Linked DNA regions of Homo sapiens. The protein of the gene in region 2 interacts with the protein of the main gene of each other region in a pairwise test. Each region holds a gene or a part of one and is shown on either strand. Other genes may lie near its edges.

Region 1 (7,577 bases), on a different chromosome or scaffold from region 2:
GTAAATGTGTGTCTGCAATACTCTTTCTGCTACTAAAGGGCTTTCTTCACTTTAAAAGGAATAAGAAGTGTTCAAAATTACCCTATCTCCTGAATATTAGAATTTAGCCAAATACTTGATGTTGACTCCTTTGAATAAAGGGTCAACATTTTAACGAGATGCATAAGCATCATTGAGAGGAAAGAGAACCTTTTATCATTGGCAGGAATTTTCTAGTGTGTATATTGACAAGTGAAAACAGGTTAAAACTTCTTAAATCCAGCAGAGGGCAGAAGGGAGTTTTAGCTATGGCTTACCCAAGACTCTCCAAACAAGATTGTAACAATCCAAGGCAAAATTCAGTGGCACTTTTGTAGACAAATTATCTCCAGGTTGTTAATGCACAAGTTACCCTGATTATATAGACGAGTCTTAGTTGGTGGGCTCAAAGCCAGTTTGCTTCTGTCCAGGACAAAAGCATATATAGGATTTTGAGTTAGTTACGCCTAAGAGGAGACAACAGTGTGTACTCAAATAACAATATCACTTTAATAGATTCAGATCTTATTTACTAACCACAACACAGCATTTCACAGTACTTCTCACGTATATTTATGGTATTCTGAATGGTAGAATGAAAGGATGTTTGAAATAATGAAGAGTAAACGATTTCATTATCAAATATATCTCACTGAAACTGACTGTTCCAACATGTGAGTTCATAAAATAATGAAAATGATTTTCACAACCTAATCTGGAATCTGAGAAATCAATTTTATCCTTTAAAGCAATAACCAAAACGTGGGATGGTAGTATTTCTTTACATGGCAAAGATGAGGTTAATATTAAAACATAATGACATTTGAGAAATGGATCTTTGTCTTGGCATTTATAAGAACTTTCAATCCGGATTAAGTTTGGCTTTAAAAAAGAAAACACTTTAAAAAGGAAAAACATATTTTCCATGCTGAAGACGGTTTTTGTTTGGGTAGTAGGTAGTATCTTCTGTTTTGCTTGGATAGTATTTAGTGTAGTATGTTGGGTTTCTCAGGACGCAGCCTCTGAAATGGAGTTAGGATGTTTATGAAGCAGCACCCTTGGGATCTACACCTGTCGAAGTGGGGAAGGAAGCAGGTTCAAGTAGGAGAAGCTGAGCTTCCCTGCAGGCGCATCATTCGCCACAGCCAACCCCACTGGGAACTCAGAGTTTGAGTGGCCCTTCAGAGTATCCTGAGCTGGGACACTCCCACACCGATCAGTTATTGGATGTGCACCTGCAACCCCCATCCCAGCCACAGGACCTGACCTGGCTAAGACAGCCCTTTGCAGCTGAGACAATCCTTAAGGGCTAGCATTTAAGCAGCTGGAAGTCCTTTATTGAAGAGGGACCTGGATGCCGTATCACAGTGCAGATAGTGTGAGAAACAGCCAAGAAGTCAGGTTTGTTGGATGTTCTTTCTGATGAATTGTTGACACTATAATGTTGGCTAACTTACGGTTTTAAAAAGAAAATGATAACTTGCCATATTTCTGTGTGTAAAGAATTGTACTAAATAAAAGACTTTTTCATGGTTAATGTGGTTTGGAAAATAGGATTTTAAAGAGCATATTTTAATAAATGAGCGTTAAATTTTAAAGTATAATTGTCTTAGTTCATTCAGGCTGTTATGTCAAAGTACCTAAACTGAGTAGCTTATAAACAGCAGGGATTTATTTCTCACCATTCTGGATGTCAAGAAAGCCAAGATCAAGGTGCCTGCAGATTCATTGTCTGGTGAGGGACAGCTTCCTGGTTCATAGATGGCTGTCTTCTCACTGTGTCCTCACATGGCAGAAGGGGTAAAGAAGCGCTCTGAGGTTTCTTTTATAAGGGTACCAATCCCACTCATGAGGGTTCCACTCTCACGCCTGATCACCTACCACAGGCCCCAGCTCCTAATACTATCACATTGAAAGTTGGGATTTCAACATGTGAGTGGGAGTCACGAACGTTCAGAGTATAACAATAATAGTAAGAAAACACAGGCATATGGTTTATTTGATTTGGGATTGTCCTATGAAGAGCAAACTATGAATTATAATGAATAATGGAATATTATAATACTTTGTGGTAGGTCTTGATCTTTGGGGAAACACTGTTAAATAAATCACAGGATGACGCTGGTAGTTTGTCAGAGAATCAAGCGTAAGCAAGTATATAATGAAGGAGGGAAAATGTATATGTTGTTTATGGAACAGTCATTTAAGTCTAGCCTTTAAGAATTTATGTTAATTCCATCTATTAATGCTATCTACCTATTAATTTCATGCATTTTTTCCCTTATCATTTAGTCATAGCTTGAATTATGTTCCTACTGCATGCACGGAGTCTTCTATACCTGCTTAATACATGAGACATGGTTCTCAAAAGGACCCACAATCTCTTAAAAAATCACATTTGTTAATATCATCGCCAATTTAATCAGAAACGTATACAATTCGAGAAGATGTCACGCTCATGGTGCGGAGTTTTCTAAATTTAATTTTCCCTTAGAAATTTCAGCTTTATCATTGGCAATAAATATTGTCAGTAGTTTCCTTGAAGCCAGGCTCATTTTGTTCATTTCTGAAGAAAATGTCTACCAAATACCCAAATCTAAATAGCCATAGTTTTCTGTTGTTCTTTAAAGTAAAAATGGCGTTCCATGAACAAAGAGGCTAGTTCAGCTCACAACTCAGTTACGTGAGTGCTTTTCCTGAAGACAGATTTCCTATTTCAGTATGAGGAAGACGGGTTTTATGGTTATTTCCATTTCATCACACAGACTATTAGGAAGATAGTCTTTCTAATGGCTCAGAGGTTGAGATTCAATAAAATAACTTATTTTTCTTCTCCATCAAGGATTTTCTTAAGTAAAACTGGGTTTTTTAAAAAAAAATTGCTAATGCATGTCAGTGGTAAAGAACCTACTGACTGCTAGTACAGTTTGGCATCAGTGTCTTTGCTGCTAAGGCACTGGCAATATTATCCTCCCTTGTTTCTGTGCCATTAGTACAATGGCAACACAGTAAAAAAGTCAGACAAGACTGGGCGTGGTAGCTCATGCCTGTAATCCCAGCACTTGGGGGAAGCCGAGGTAGGAGAATTGCTTGAGGCCAGGAATTTTAGACCAGCCTGGGCAACATAGCAAGACCCTGTCTCTTAAAAAAAAAGTCAAACAGTGTGTTAGTATTATTATAAAGAGAGTTATGAACTCATTACCCCTGAAAGTGTCTCCAGCCCACACTGAGAACCGCTGGTACAAAGAAGAGTGTAAGCGCAAAGAGCCTGGGGAAAGAAAACCGCTTAGGCAATAGATAAAAAAGGCCGAACTTCATATGATGGCAGGAGAGATGGAGAACAGGGAAGGAAGTGAGAAACCCTGGCAGAGGTTCCATGGAAAAGATTTGGCAGTAGAAGGGCAGCAAAGAGTTGAAATGTACTGAGGTTTTCAGTCTGCATAACTGAGTGGATGGCAATTCCATTAACTGAGATGATGACTGGGGGAAGAGGGGCCCTGTTTTATTATTGAAAACGATACTGCTTTTCACACTGAGAGAGAAAAATCTATCATAATTCTTGCATTTGGAAAAGGGTGGATTCTAGCACTAGTGAGAAAGTACTGTTGGCCAGGTCTCTGCAGCAGCCTGAGATTTGATTTAGTACTGATAATGAGTTTTGGTTCTTGGAACATCAGAGCATTCTGTTTCATGCATAAGACTCTTATGTCTGTGTTTCCTGTAATAGTGTTGTTTTTTTCTTCTTTATTTCCAGGAATGGTGCAAAAGCTGGACCAAAAGCTTCCAGTGGCTAATGAATACCTGTTGCTCTCTGGAGGTGTCCGGGAAGGCGTGGTGGACCTGGACTTAGATGAGCTTAATGTCTATGCCCGGGGTACTGACTATGATATGGACTTTACCCTCTTGGTGCCAGCCCTCAAGCTGCATGACCGTAATCAGCCTGTGACACTCGACATGCGCCACTCAGCCTTGTGCCACTCTTGGCTGAGCCTTCGGCTCTTTGATGAGGGGACAATCAGTAAATGGAAAGACTGCTGCACCATTGTAGATCACATCAATGGTGCCACCAACTACTTCTTCTCACCTACCAAAGTGGCTGACTGGTTCTATGACTCTATCAGCATTGTCCTATCAGAAATACAGAAGAAACCCCAGCGAGGGATGCCAAAGGTAGAAAAGGTGGAAAAAAATGGGACCATCATCTCCATCATTCTGGGTGTAGGGAGTAGTCGCATGTTGTATGATATTGTCCCTGTGGTATCTTTCAAAGGTTGGCCTGCAGTGGCCCAGAGCTGGCTCATGGAGAACCACTTTTGGGATGGGAAGATTACTGAGGAAGAGGTCATCAGTGGGTTTTACTTGGTGCCTGCTTGCTCCTACAAGGGTAAGAAGGACAATGAATGGCGGCTGTCCTTTGCCAGGAGCGAGGTGCAGTTGAAGAAGTGCATCTCCAGCAGCCTCATGCAGGCCTATCAGGCCTGCAAAGCCATCATCATTAAACTGCTGTCCCGGCCCAAGGCTATTAGCCCCTATCACCTGCGGAGCATGATGCTCTGGGCCTGCGACAGACTTCCTGCCAACTACTTGGCTCAAGAAGACTATGCAGCCCACTTTTTGCTGGGCCTCATCGATGACCTGCAACACTGTCTGGTCAACAAGATGTGCCCCAATTATTTCATCCCTCAGTGCAACATGCTGGAACATCTGTCTGAGGAGACAGTCATGCTTCACGCCCGGAAGCTGTCCTCTGTGCGCTCAGACCCGGCAGAGCACTTGCGCACCGCCATTGAGCATGTCAAGGCAGCCAACCGGCTGACACTGGAGCTCCAGAGGCGAGGTAGCACCACCAGCATCCCCTCTCCACAGTCTGACGGAGGGGACCCCAACCAGCCTGATGACCGTTTGGCAAAAAAACTGCAGCAGCTAGTGACTGAGAACCCGGGAAAGTCAATCTCTGTCTTTATCAATCCTGACGATGTCACAAGGCCCCATTTCAGAATTGATGACAAATTTTTCTGAGTGTTAGCTGACTTTTTTTTTTCCTGATTCTTAAACTCTGATAATGTGTCGTGTGGTTTGTGATGCTATCTTTCTGTTTTTTACATATCCAGCCTAGATTGGATTTGTTAAGAACAAATTTTAAGTTTCCTGGTTCTGCAGGATGGTGCAGGCTCTGAAACAGTATATTACTATTTCATATTCTGCCTCTGATTTCGTTGTTTACTTTTTGTAGTTATTGTCATGCTCTTTAGTTTGTTGGAGTTTTTTTTCTTTTTAAGGAGATCTTAAGCCATAGATGAAAATGCCCATGAATCCTCTTGCTTTTTTCTGTTTCATACTTGGTGCAAATTTGTTCATGGGTATGGGGAAACAAATCTCTTTCTGATGCTTAACGATTCTATCCTATTATTTTTATTATTTTGTTTTTGTCTTTTTTCTTATGAGCTTTCACCACTACTGATATTTGAGAATCATATGAACCTGGGAACTACTTGGCATGTTAGCTGGATTTATTTATTTTGGCCAGTGACCAGAGTAGTTTCCCCCCTTTTCCACCAAACAATGTAAACTTTGAAAGTGATAATACTACAAATTGTGTTTTGGAGCAACTTCATTGAATGTAATTGTCCTCAAATCAGAGAACACTGGGTGGTTTGAAGGGTGTCTTTGACAGTTTTCCAAGCAGAATTAAGGTTTCCAAATGTTAATTTTAGCATATGTAATTATTTGAAGCCTTATTTAAATCCTATTAAAGAACATACCATTATAATTATTATTTGCACTAATCTTTGCCATTGTCAGAATTGCAAAGTGTGTTTCAATATAAATTAACAACCACTCTCGAAATTCTATCATTTTTTCATTTTGCCCATTTCTATCAGTGAAATGATTCTTTGCATTTGCTTAGTTCTCCTTCAGTTGTGGGGTCCTGCTTTGCCCTCTTTGATATTCCTGGTTCCTGTCTTACTGAGAGAAGTTGTTAAAGCTTTATACATGTTGACCCCATCTAAAGCTGGGGAAAATATACACTTGATGAAGTAGGTGTCTTTGTATTTATTTCTTTTGGGGTCATAGAGGTAAGCTTTTTTGTAAAATCTCTACTCTTCCTGAGAGTTTTGAGAAAAACTGGCAGGAAGAACTTATAATCCCCAAATAGAAGATACCACGTCTGTTCAAAAGCAGGTATTGCTATAGAGCAGCACCCAGGAAATATCTGTGGGTGGCAGCCTTGGTATAGAGGTGTCCTGTCTTCATGAGTGAAGTTACTTGCCTGATTAGGTGCTGGAAGGTATTGGCTCCCTGTTTTGGTGTGGACTCATGGCAAGCTGGTGTTTAAGAGGTCAGGAGGCCTGCTGATCTTTCAAAGGACACCCATGATGTCTACTCATAGAAAGGGCAAGTAACGTGTTCATTTTGGTCTTGAATGTCCAAACTCAAGGGTTGGATTTTGGCCAATTGAAATCAGACATATGCGATCTTGGGTTTTTGCATGGAAATTAATGTAATGCTTATAAATGAAAAATGAAAACATTTCAACCATCTAAGTCAAACACAAAAATAATAAAAAAAGAAACATACTGGCCTTGAAATTTTGTTGTTGTTTGTAATCTGGGAATTATTTTCTTATTAGTATTATATTAGTATATTTATATATTAGTATATTTTCTTATTAGTATTATACTAACAGCAATTTTCAATAAATACAGCCATGGGCTTGCTAGTGTCTTTCGGACCAGTTGTCCATATAGTGAACAACCAACATTCAGTCTTCCTCTTTCCCCAGTTTTACTACTAATGTCTATCCGCCACATCATCCTTGTCCTTCTCAGGAAATGATTTCATCCCTAGTGCTGAAAACGCGTCATAATTGGAAAAGCTGATCTGCACAAACCATCTCCCTGGCCACAACATTAACAAGCGACACAGAATGTAAGCCGCTCCAGTCAGGGACACGCTCAGCGTTCCAAACTGGAATGCTGGGACAGAAACATACACTCTCCCTGGATATGGAGGAGAAAGCATTTGGATTCTTTTGCTACTGACAACTATCACACGATCTTTATTTATTTGTGTATTTATTTTTAATACACTTTAAGTTCTGGGTTACATGTGCAGAACGTGCAGTTTTGTTACATAGGTATATACGTGCCCTGGGTGATGTGCTGCACTCATCAACCCGTCACTAATGCTATCCCTCCCCCAGCCCCCTACCCCCCGACAGGCCCCGATGCGTGATGCTCCCCTCCCTGTGTCCGTGTGTTCTCATTGTTCAACTCCCACTTAAGAGTGAGAACATGTGGCGTTTGGTTTTCTGATCTTGTATCACGCAATCTTGACTAGAGCTAGCTTTAGGATGAAGCTGACGTTGGATGGCGTTATGGGAGCTGGGAATTAAAACATGACCTACCACACCCGCCACATCTGAGATCTCCACTAGACTTTCTAGTTAAATGAGTCAACACTTGGGTTATTTTAGCCAGTTTGAATTTGGCTCATCAAAATATTTAAACTGGTATACCAAACTACTTCAGTATATTTAAACTATTGCCGTTGTTGTG
Region 2 (8,035 bases):
GCCAAAGGAATGTGAGAGGGAGAACCAACTCCACCTGAGGCAACCTTCGGACATCTTCCCGAGAGAGGTAACAGTTTCACTGAAGAGTTTGCCAGGCCGTGAGGCAGGGCCGACTCTCCCAGGCAGAGTCCAGCACATTCTCAGGTTCGCAGAATCTGAGGGACCCATGTGGTCAGGGGCTGGAGCTAATAAGAGAGGTGATGGGACACATCTGGTGGCCCAAGCCAAGGAGTTGGACGGCACACTGGATTACAAGACAACAGAGGGTTTTCAGCATGGGTGATGAGATTAGACTTGCTTTCAGAGACCTACTATAGCAGCAGAGTGGGCTGGAGTGTGGAGAGGTTGACAGGCTCAGGAGGGTACCACCCAGGTGCCCCAGGTTCAAGGGACTAAGGCTGGGACAAGGCAGGCTGATCTCAGGGCAGCAGGGAGACAGACTGGGTAGGAGTTAGTGTCTACCGGGACTAGAGTTGGGGGTTGAGAGGGAGGGCCAGGGATGACTTCTGGGACTTTGGCTTGGGTGACTTAGGGCCTGCTGGGTGAGAAGGTGGAGATCTGAGACAAACCTCTCTTTCTAGAAGTTTAACAGAAGAGAGGAAGGGAAGGAGGCAGTACCTTGAGAGAGAGTTAAGGTTCCAAAGTTCAATGTGGGTTTTTAAAAAGAATCAGGTTTTACACCTTCCCAGACTCAACTGTCTTCCTATATGAAAGTCAATAGAGACATCCTAGCTGTCACCCCTACTCTCTGTGTTCCCTGGGGCCCCACTGGGGGAGGGGGCCTGCTGAGTGACTAGGGCTGACTCTCCATGGTGCATCCCTCTGATGCTCTACTCGCCCCCTCCCTTTGTGTTCGCATAGGCACCCAGCATGGGCACCCTCATGGGGGTGTACCTGCCCTGCCTGCAGAATATCTTTGGGGTTATCCTCTTCCTGCGGCTGACCTGGATGGTGGGCACAGCAGGTGTGCTACAGGCCCTCCTCATCGTGCTTATCTGCTGCTGTTGTGTGAGTGTCCTGGCGTGGGAGGGTTGGGCTGGGCATGGGCCACGGCTGCCCCCACAGAGCCCACCCAGCTGAGCCGCTCACCCAGGCCCTCCTTCCCACAGACCCTGCTGACGGCCATCTCCATGAGTGCCATCGCCACCAACGGTGTGGTTCCAGGTCAGTGAGCGCCACCCAAGGCCTGGTGGAAGAGAAAAGGACCCAGTATCTGCCTTGACCTACCTGGGAACCCCCATAGCACACCCCTGCCCCAAGCAGTTCTGTAGTGGGCTCCCAATCCCTGATGCCAGGACAGTGCCCACGTAGGAGCTTTCCTGCTTGACAGAGTTGGAGAGTGCCATTGTGGTTTTTGTTAATATAAAAGCAATACCAAAAAAGAAAAAAAAAGGGCAATGTATGTTTACTGTAAGAGGGTTTGAAAGTGCAAAAAAAGGCCAGGCGCGGTGGCTCATGCCTGTAATCCCAGCACTTTGGGAGGCCGAGGTGGGTGGATCACAAGGGCAGGAGATCGAGACCATCCTGGCCAACACGGTGAAACCCCATCTCTACTAGAAATACAAAAAATTAGCCGGGCGTGGTGGCGGGCGCCTGTAGTCCCAGCTACTCGGGAGGCTGAGGCAGGAGAATGGCGTGAACCTGGCAGGCAGAGCTTGCGGTGAGCCGAGATTGCACCACTGCACTCCAGCCTGGGCGACAGAGCGAGACTCCGTCGCAAAAAAAAAAAAAAAAAATTAGCCAGGCATGGTGGTGGGCACTTGTAATTCCAGCTACTTGGGAGGCTGAGGCAGAGAATAGCTTGAACCCAGGAGGCAGAGGTTGCAGTAGTGAGCCAAGATCATGCCACTGCACTCCAGCTTGGGTGACAGAGCAAGACTCCATCTCCAAAATAAATAAATAAATAATAAAAAAGTGCAGAAAGGTATAGAATGGAAAATTAAAAGCACCCATAATCCCACCATCCTGAAATCACTACTGTTCGCCTTTTGGTATATATAAGTCTTAGGGTCTTATGAAGTATTGCACACGCACACTCTATTTACATAAATTGTATATATATATATATATATGTGTGTGTGTGTTTGTGTGTATTTCCCAAAAGTATATGTGTGTATATATACATATGCATTTATGTGTATATGTTTACGTGTGTATGTGTGTGTGTATGTTTCCCAAGTGTTGAAAACAGTTTTTTGATTTTGGTTTTTTGGGTTTTTTTTGAGACAGAGTCTCTCTCTGTCACCCAGGCTGGAGTGCAGTGGCATGATCTCAGCTCACTGCAACCTCCATTTCCCAGGTTTAAGCAATTCTAAGTGATTCTCATGCCTCAGCCTCCTGAGTAGCTGGGATTACAGGCGACCACCACATTTTTGTATTTTTAGTAGAGACGAGGTTTCACTATGTTGGCCAGGATGGTTTCGAACTCTTGACCTTAACTGATCCACCCACCTCTGCCTCTCAAAGTGCTGGGATTACGGGTGTGAGCCACTGCACCCTGCCGAAAATGGTTTTTTGAAAACAGGATTCTCCATGGTACACCATAACCTAATTAATGTGATTATTCTCCTGCCTGTGGGTTCCACTTTTTCACCATTGTATACATTGTTGTCATGAACATCCTTGAACATGAATCTTTGTTCATGCCCCAGCAGTTCCCTTAGGAGAGGGTCCTGGAGGTGGATTACGGCATGAAAAAGATTGACTTTTCGTTTATTTATTTATTTATTTATTTTGAGACGGAGTGTGTCGCCCAGGCTGGAGTGCAGTGGCACGATCTCAGCTCACTGCAATCTCCACCTCCCAGGTTCAAGCGATTCTCCTGCCTCAGCCGCCCGAGTAGCTGGGATTACAGACATGCACCACCATGCTCAGCTAATTTTTGTATTTTTAGTAGAGATGGGGTTTCACCATGTTGGCTAGGCTGGTCTCAAACTCCTGACCTCAAGTCATCTGCCTGCCTCAGCCTCCCAAAGTGCTGGGATTACAGGCGTGAGCCACTGTGCCCAGCTGACATTTTTTTTTTTTTGAGACGGAGTCTCACTCTGTCGCCAGGCTAGAGTGAAGTGGCATGATCTCGGCTCACTGCACCCTCTGCCTCCCAGGTTCAAACGATTCTCCTGCCTCAGCCTCCTGAGTAGCTGGGACTACAGGTGCACACCGCCACGCCTAGCTAATTTTGTATTTTAGTAGAGACGGGGTTTCATCGTGTTGCCCAGGCTGGTCACGAACTCCTGAGCTCAGGCAGTCCACCCATCTCAGCCTCCCAAAATGCTGGGATTACAGATGTGGGCCACTGCACCCGGCCTTTTTTTAAAAATGTATATTTTTATCATTTCCTTTTTTTAGTAGAGACGGGGTCTCGCCATGTTGCCCAGACTGGTCTGGAACTCCTGAGCTCAAGCAATCCACTCACCCCAGCCTCCCAAAATGCTGGGCTTACAGGCATGAGCCACCACGCCCAGCCAAGATTGACTCTTTGAAAGAATTTCTTGATCCCTGTTCCCAGATTTTCACCAGAGACATTGTCTCAGCAGCAGATACAACCAGCAACATGAGATGACTCTTGTCCCCCTGTGCTTGTCACCCTGGGGCCTGGTCATGACTCTCTGAGTCTTTTAAGGGTGTTAGACTTTGATAGAAGCACAGATTCAGGGCAGGGAGCCGTGGACACTCACCTGGTGGCAGGCACTGTGCGGGGCCTTAGGGCCAAAAGGCTGGATGAGACAGTCCCTCCTCTGGTCTGGAGGAGTCAGACTAACAAAGGCACAGGCCTCAGGAGGGTGAGGTGGGCTGAGATAGGACACACCCAGCCAGAGGAGGCTGTGGGCTGTGCACAGGGCATTGGAGGATGGTGGCCAGTCAGCCACTGCTGCAGACTAGAGCTGCTCCCGCAAAGCAGTTATTTCCACGGGCCGTGCTGGACATTCGAGTCAGATGGGGATAGGATCGAATGTCAGCCTAGATGCTTACCCACCGTGCAGCCCTGGGTAGGTCTCCCAGCCCCTCTACTCATCCACAAACAGGAAAAGCAGTCCCTGTCCCTCTGGGTGGTTGTGCAGGCTTGTCACAGGGAGACCCCTTGAAGAAGAACCAGCCTTGACCTGTGCACACTTTCATTTCTCTGCTGTAGCTGGGGGCTCCTATTTCATGATCTCTCGTTCACTGGGGCCAGAATTTGGAGGTGCTGTGGGCCTGTGCTTCTACCTGGGAACAACATTCGCAGCAGCCATGTACATCCTGGGGGCCATCGAGATCTTGCTGGTGAGTCAGGCTGAGCCCTGGCCAACTCTGGCCATGTCCAAACAGTCCCTTTGGACTCCAAACAGAAGGCTCAGGCTGTTCATCCCCACATGTCTGGCCAAGGCCTGGGTATTATAAAGTAGGAAGCCTCTTCGAGAGACAAAGACCTTTACTCAGGCTGGTCTTCCTTTCACCTCCATGCCAGTTTGGGCCAGGCAAGGCAGAGGCCTGGCTGCCTTCACCTCGGCCCTGGATGTTCCATCCACCTGGGCACCATTGCAGCCATGGCAAGGGTTCCAGGAACTGTTGTATTCAGCTCAGTGACAGATCTTGGTGGTGATGTAGGCTTCCTTCTGGGCTTGTGTGAGCTCTGGCCAGCTCTGTGTCCTCCGGGGCTCTGTGCCAGGGCACTTCAGATCCACCTTCTCCTTGTCCTTCAATCAGGGTAAGCAGCCACAGAACCCTGCTGGAGGTCGGCGCTCCCTCCACGAGCCCCATGGGAGCTCTGTCAGCCTCAGCTTCTCATTCCCCAGTGAACTGCCGTACCAGTGGGAGAAGAGGCAAGGAGCTGCGGGAGGCATGGGGTGACAGGTGCCCGCCCCTGGGGATCCAGAGGGTAGGAGATACCTGGAGGGACTGCCTGGCTGTTCTTGTCTCCAGGTCCTCTACCTGCAGCAGGACCCTGCACCTGAATCTTCTGATTTGGGGGGGCTTTGGCTTGTTTTCATTTCTCATATCCCTTCTACATTCATTATGTGGGATTTGTCCCTTCTCCTGTTTATCTATTCAGCCATGTCATTATATCTGTATGGACTTCTGGATATTTACTTTATTCTTTGGGTTGTAATCCAATACTATCATTATTTATTTTCTTGCTCAAACTGTTCCACTTTGGCTATTTAACGATTCAGGTTGGCATCTATGTTTGGATCCTTTTTGTTTGCTTGTTTTTAAGTAACAGCTTTATTAACATATAATTTACATACCATGCAATTCCCATACCAATTTATATACCATTGAAAGTGTACAATTCAATGTTTTATAGTATATTCACAGAGTTGCGCAGTCAATTCTAGAACATTTTCATCATCCCAAGAACCCCCATTAGCAGTCACTCTCCATTCCCCGCCAGCCCTGGCAACCAGGAATCTGCTTTCTGCCTTGGGATTTGCCTATTCTGGGCATCTCATATAAACAGAATCATATAATATGTGACCTTTTGTGACTGGCTTCTTTTAGGTACTCTTATTTTTTATTTTTATTTATTTATTTGTTTTGAGATGCAGTCTCACTCTGTCGCCCAAGCTGGAGTGCAGTGGCATGATCACAGCTCACTGCAATTTCCGCCTCCTGGGTTCAAGTGATTCTCCTGCCTCAGCCTCCCGAGTAGCTGGGATTACAGGCTCATGCCACCACGCCCAGCTAATTTTTTGTATTTTAGTAGAGATGAGGTTTCACCAAGTTGCCTGGGGTTGTCTCGAACTCTTGAGCTCAGGCAGTCGGCCTCCCAGAGTGCTGGGATTATAGGCATGAGCCATTGCGCCCGGCCTATTCATTTATTTTTTTGAGACAAGGTCTCACTCTGTCACCCAGACTGGAGTGCCGTGGTGTGGTCTCTACTCACTGCAACCACCACCTCCGAGACTGAAGTGATTCTCCTGCCTCAGCCTCCCGAGTAGCTGGGATTACAGGCGTGTGCCACTACTACCAGTTTTTGCACCACTAATTTTTGTATTTTTAGTAGAGATGAGGTTTCACCATGTTGGCCAGGCTGGTCTCAAACTCCTGACCTCAAGTGATCCACCGCCTCAGCCTCCCAAAGTGCTGGGATTACAGGCGTGAGCCACGGCGCTGACCTATTTTTTATTTTTTTTTGAGACGGAGTCCCCCTCTGTCACCCAGGCTGGAGTGCAGTGGTGCGATCTCTGCTCACTGCAACCTCTGCTTCCTGGATTCAGGCGATCCTCCTGCCTCAGCCTCCAGTTGCTGGGATTACAGGCACGTGCCACCACGCCCGGCTAATTTTTAGTAGAGATGGCGTTTCCCCATGTTGGCCAGGCTAGTCATGATCTCCTGACCTCAAGTGATCCCCCACCTCAGCCTCCCAAAGTGCTGGGATTACAGGCGTGAGCCACTGCGCCCGGCCTCTTTTAGGTACTCGTAAAAAGAAAACCAAAACGACAAGTTTCACTTTCCAAATAAGAAATAAAACCCTCCTTATCCATCTTCTTGTTTCAGACCTACATTGCCCCACCAGCTGCCATTTTTTACCCATCGGGTGCTCATGACACGTCGAATGCCACTTTGAACAATATGCGTGTGTATGGGACCATTTTCCTGACCTTCATGACCCTGGTGGTGTTTGTGGGGGTCAAGTATGTGAACAAATTTGCCTCGCTCTTCCTGGCCTGTGTGATCATCTCCATCCTCTCCATCTATGCTGGGGGCATAAAGTCTATATTTGACCCTCCCGTGTTTCCGTAAGTAACCCAGGAATTTATCTGGGCATTGCATGGACATCCCTCCCATGTAGCCAGCCTTTGATGCCCCAGATCCCAGAGACTGCAGGGTGGGCACAGGCAGGGGCTTTGACCTGAGCAGGTGCCGGTGCTTCTGTCCCTCACAGGGTATGCATGCTGGGCAACAGGACCCTGTCCCGGGACCAGTTTGACATCTGTGCCAAGACAGCTGTAGTGGACAATGAGACAGTGGCCACCCAGCTATGGAGTTTCTTCTGCCACAGCCCCAACCTTACGACCGACTCCTGTGACCCCTACTTCATGCTCAACAATGTGACCGAGATCCCTGGCATCCCCGGGGCAGCTGCTGGTGTGCTCCAGGGTGGGTCCTCCCTCCCGTCGTCTTGCTCTTGAGCCCACAGGCTGAGCAGGGGCACAGAGCACAGAGCTGTCCTTGTGTGGCCAGCTTGGGAACGGGGGCAGGACTGGCCGCCTTCCCAGCCCCCCAGTGTCCTCCCAGCCTGGCTCCTGGCAGCCGAGTTTGGAGTGAGTGGAGCCTGTCTGGCCAGCGTCCAAGGCCTGCAGCAGCCTGTCTTCCCCAGCCACCAGCCCCTGACACTGCCTGGGGATGTTCCCACAGGATCCATAAAGGCCTCTGTGGAAGGCGGGCAGTGGCGGGCTCTGGGTGACGGTGGTTCAGCCACCTTTGTCTGTCGACTTCTAGCTGGGCAGCTCCTTCTCTGTGGTCAGGGTAGCCCTGTGGCTGACGCTGCAGTCATTGGGCTGAAGCTGTTCCCTGAGTCCCCAAAGTTGCCCTGCATCTGCGCCTCTGGCTAGGCTGCCCCAAACTACCTGGGGTAGTGGGGGGCAGCTGTGGTGGTGACACAGCTACCCCTGCAGAAAACCTGTGGAGCGCCTACCTGGAGAAGGGTGACATCGTGGAGAAGCATGGGCTGCCCTCCGCAGATGCCCCGAGCCTGAAGGAGAGCCTGCCTCTGTACGTGGTCGCTGACATCGCCACATCCTTCACCGTGCTGGTCGGCATCTTCTTCCCTTCTGTAACAGGTGAGCCCTGCCTGCCTACCCACCCAGCCCTGTCCCCAATCCCGGGGAGCCCCTGAGGGAGTCTCATCTGTTTTTGGAGGCATCATGGCTGGCTCAAACCGCTCTGGGGACCTTCGTGACGCCCAGAAGTCTATCCCTGTGGGGACCATTCTGGCCATCATTACAACTTCCCTCGTGTGTATCCTTTCCCAGGCCTGGGGCAGGTGGGGCAGAGGACGGGAAGCGCTTGGCCTGTGTACGTTGCCAGGTCACATGCACAGACACCCCAC

Evidence for each region.
Region 1: the proteins of SLC12A4 (region 2) and MB21D2 interact in binary tests that used the Homo sapiens proteins (3 or more experiments, as listed by UniProt).

What each region holds. Positions count from the first base shown.
Region 1 is NC_000003.12:192,795,846-192,803,422, reverse strand, and holds the end of MB21D2 (nucleotidyltransferase MB21D2), read left to right. Parts: intron 1-3,772; coding exon 3,773-5,037; 3' UTR 5,038-6,608; downstream 6,609-7,577. UniProt on the Homo sapiens protein: Probable nucleotidyltransferase that catalyzes the formation of cyclic dinucleotide second messenger in response to some unknown stimulus.
Region 2 is NC_000016.10:67,950,871-67,958,905, reverse strand, and holds part of SLC12A4 (solute carrier family 12 member 4), read left to right. Parts: intron 1-861; coding exon 862-1,008; intron 1,009-1,109; coding exon 1,110-1,164; intron 1,165-4,132; coding exon 4,133-4,263; intron 4,264-6,480; coding exon 6,481-6,722; intron 6,723-6,868; coding exon 6,869-7,083; intron 7,084-7,601; coding exon 7,602-7,766; intron 7,767-7,845; coding exon 7,846-7,944; intron 7,945-8,035. UniProt on the Homo sapiens protein: Mediates electroneutral potassium-chloride cotransport when activated by cell swelling. May contribute to cell volume homeostasis in single cells. May be involved in the regulation of basolateral Cl(-) exit in NaCl absorbing epithelia.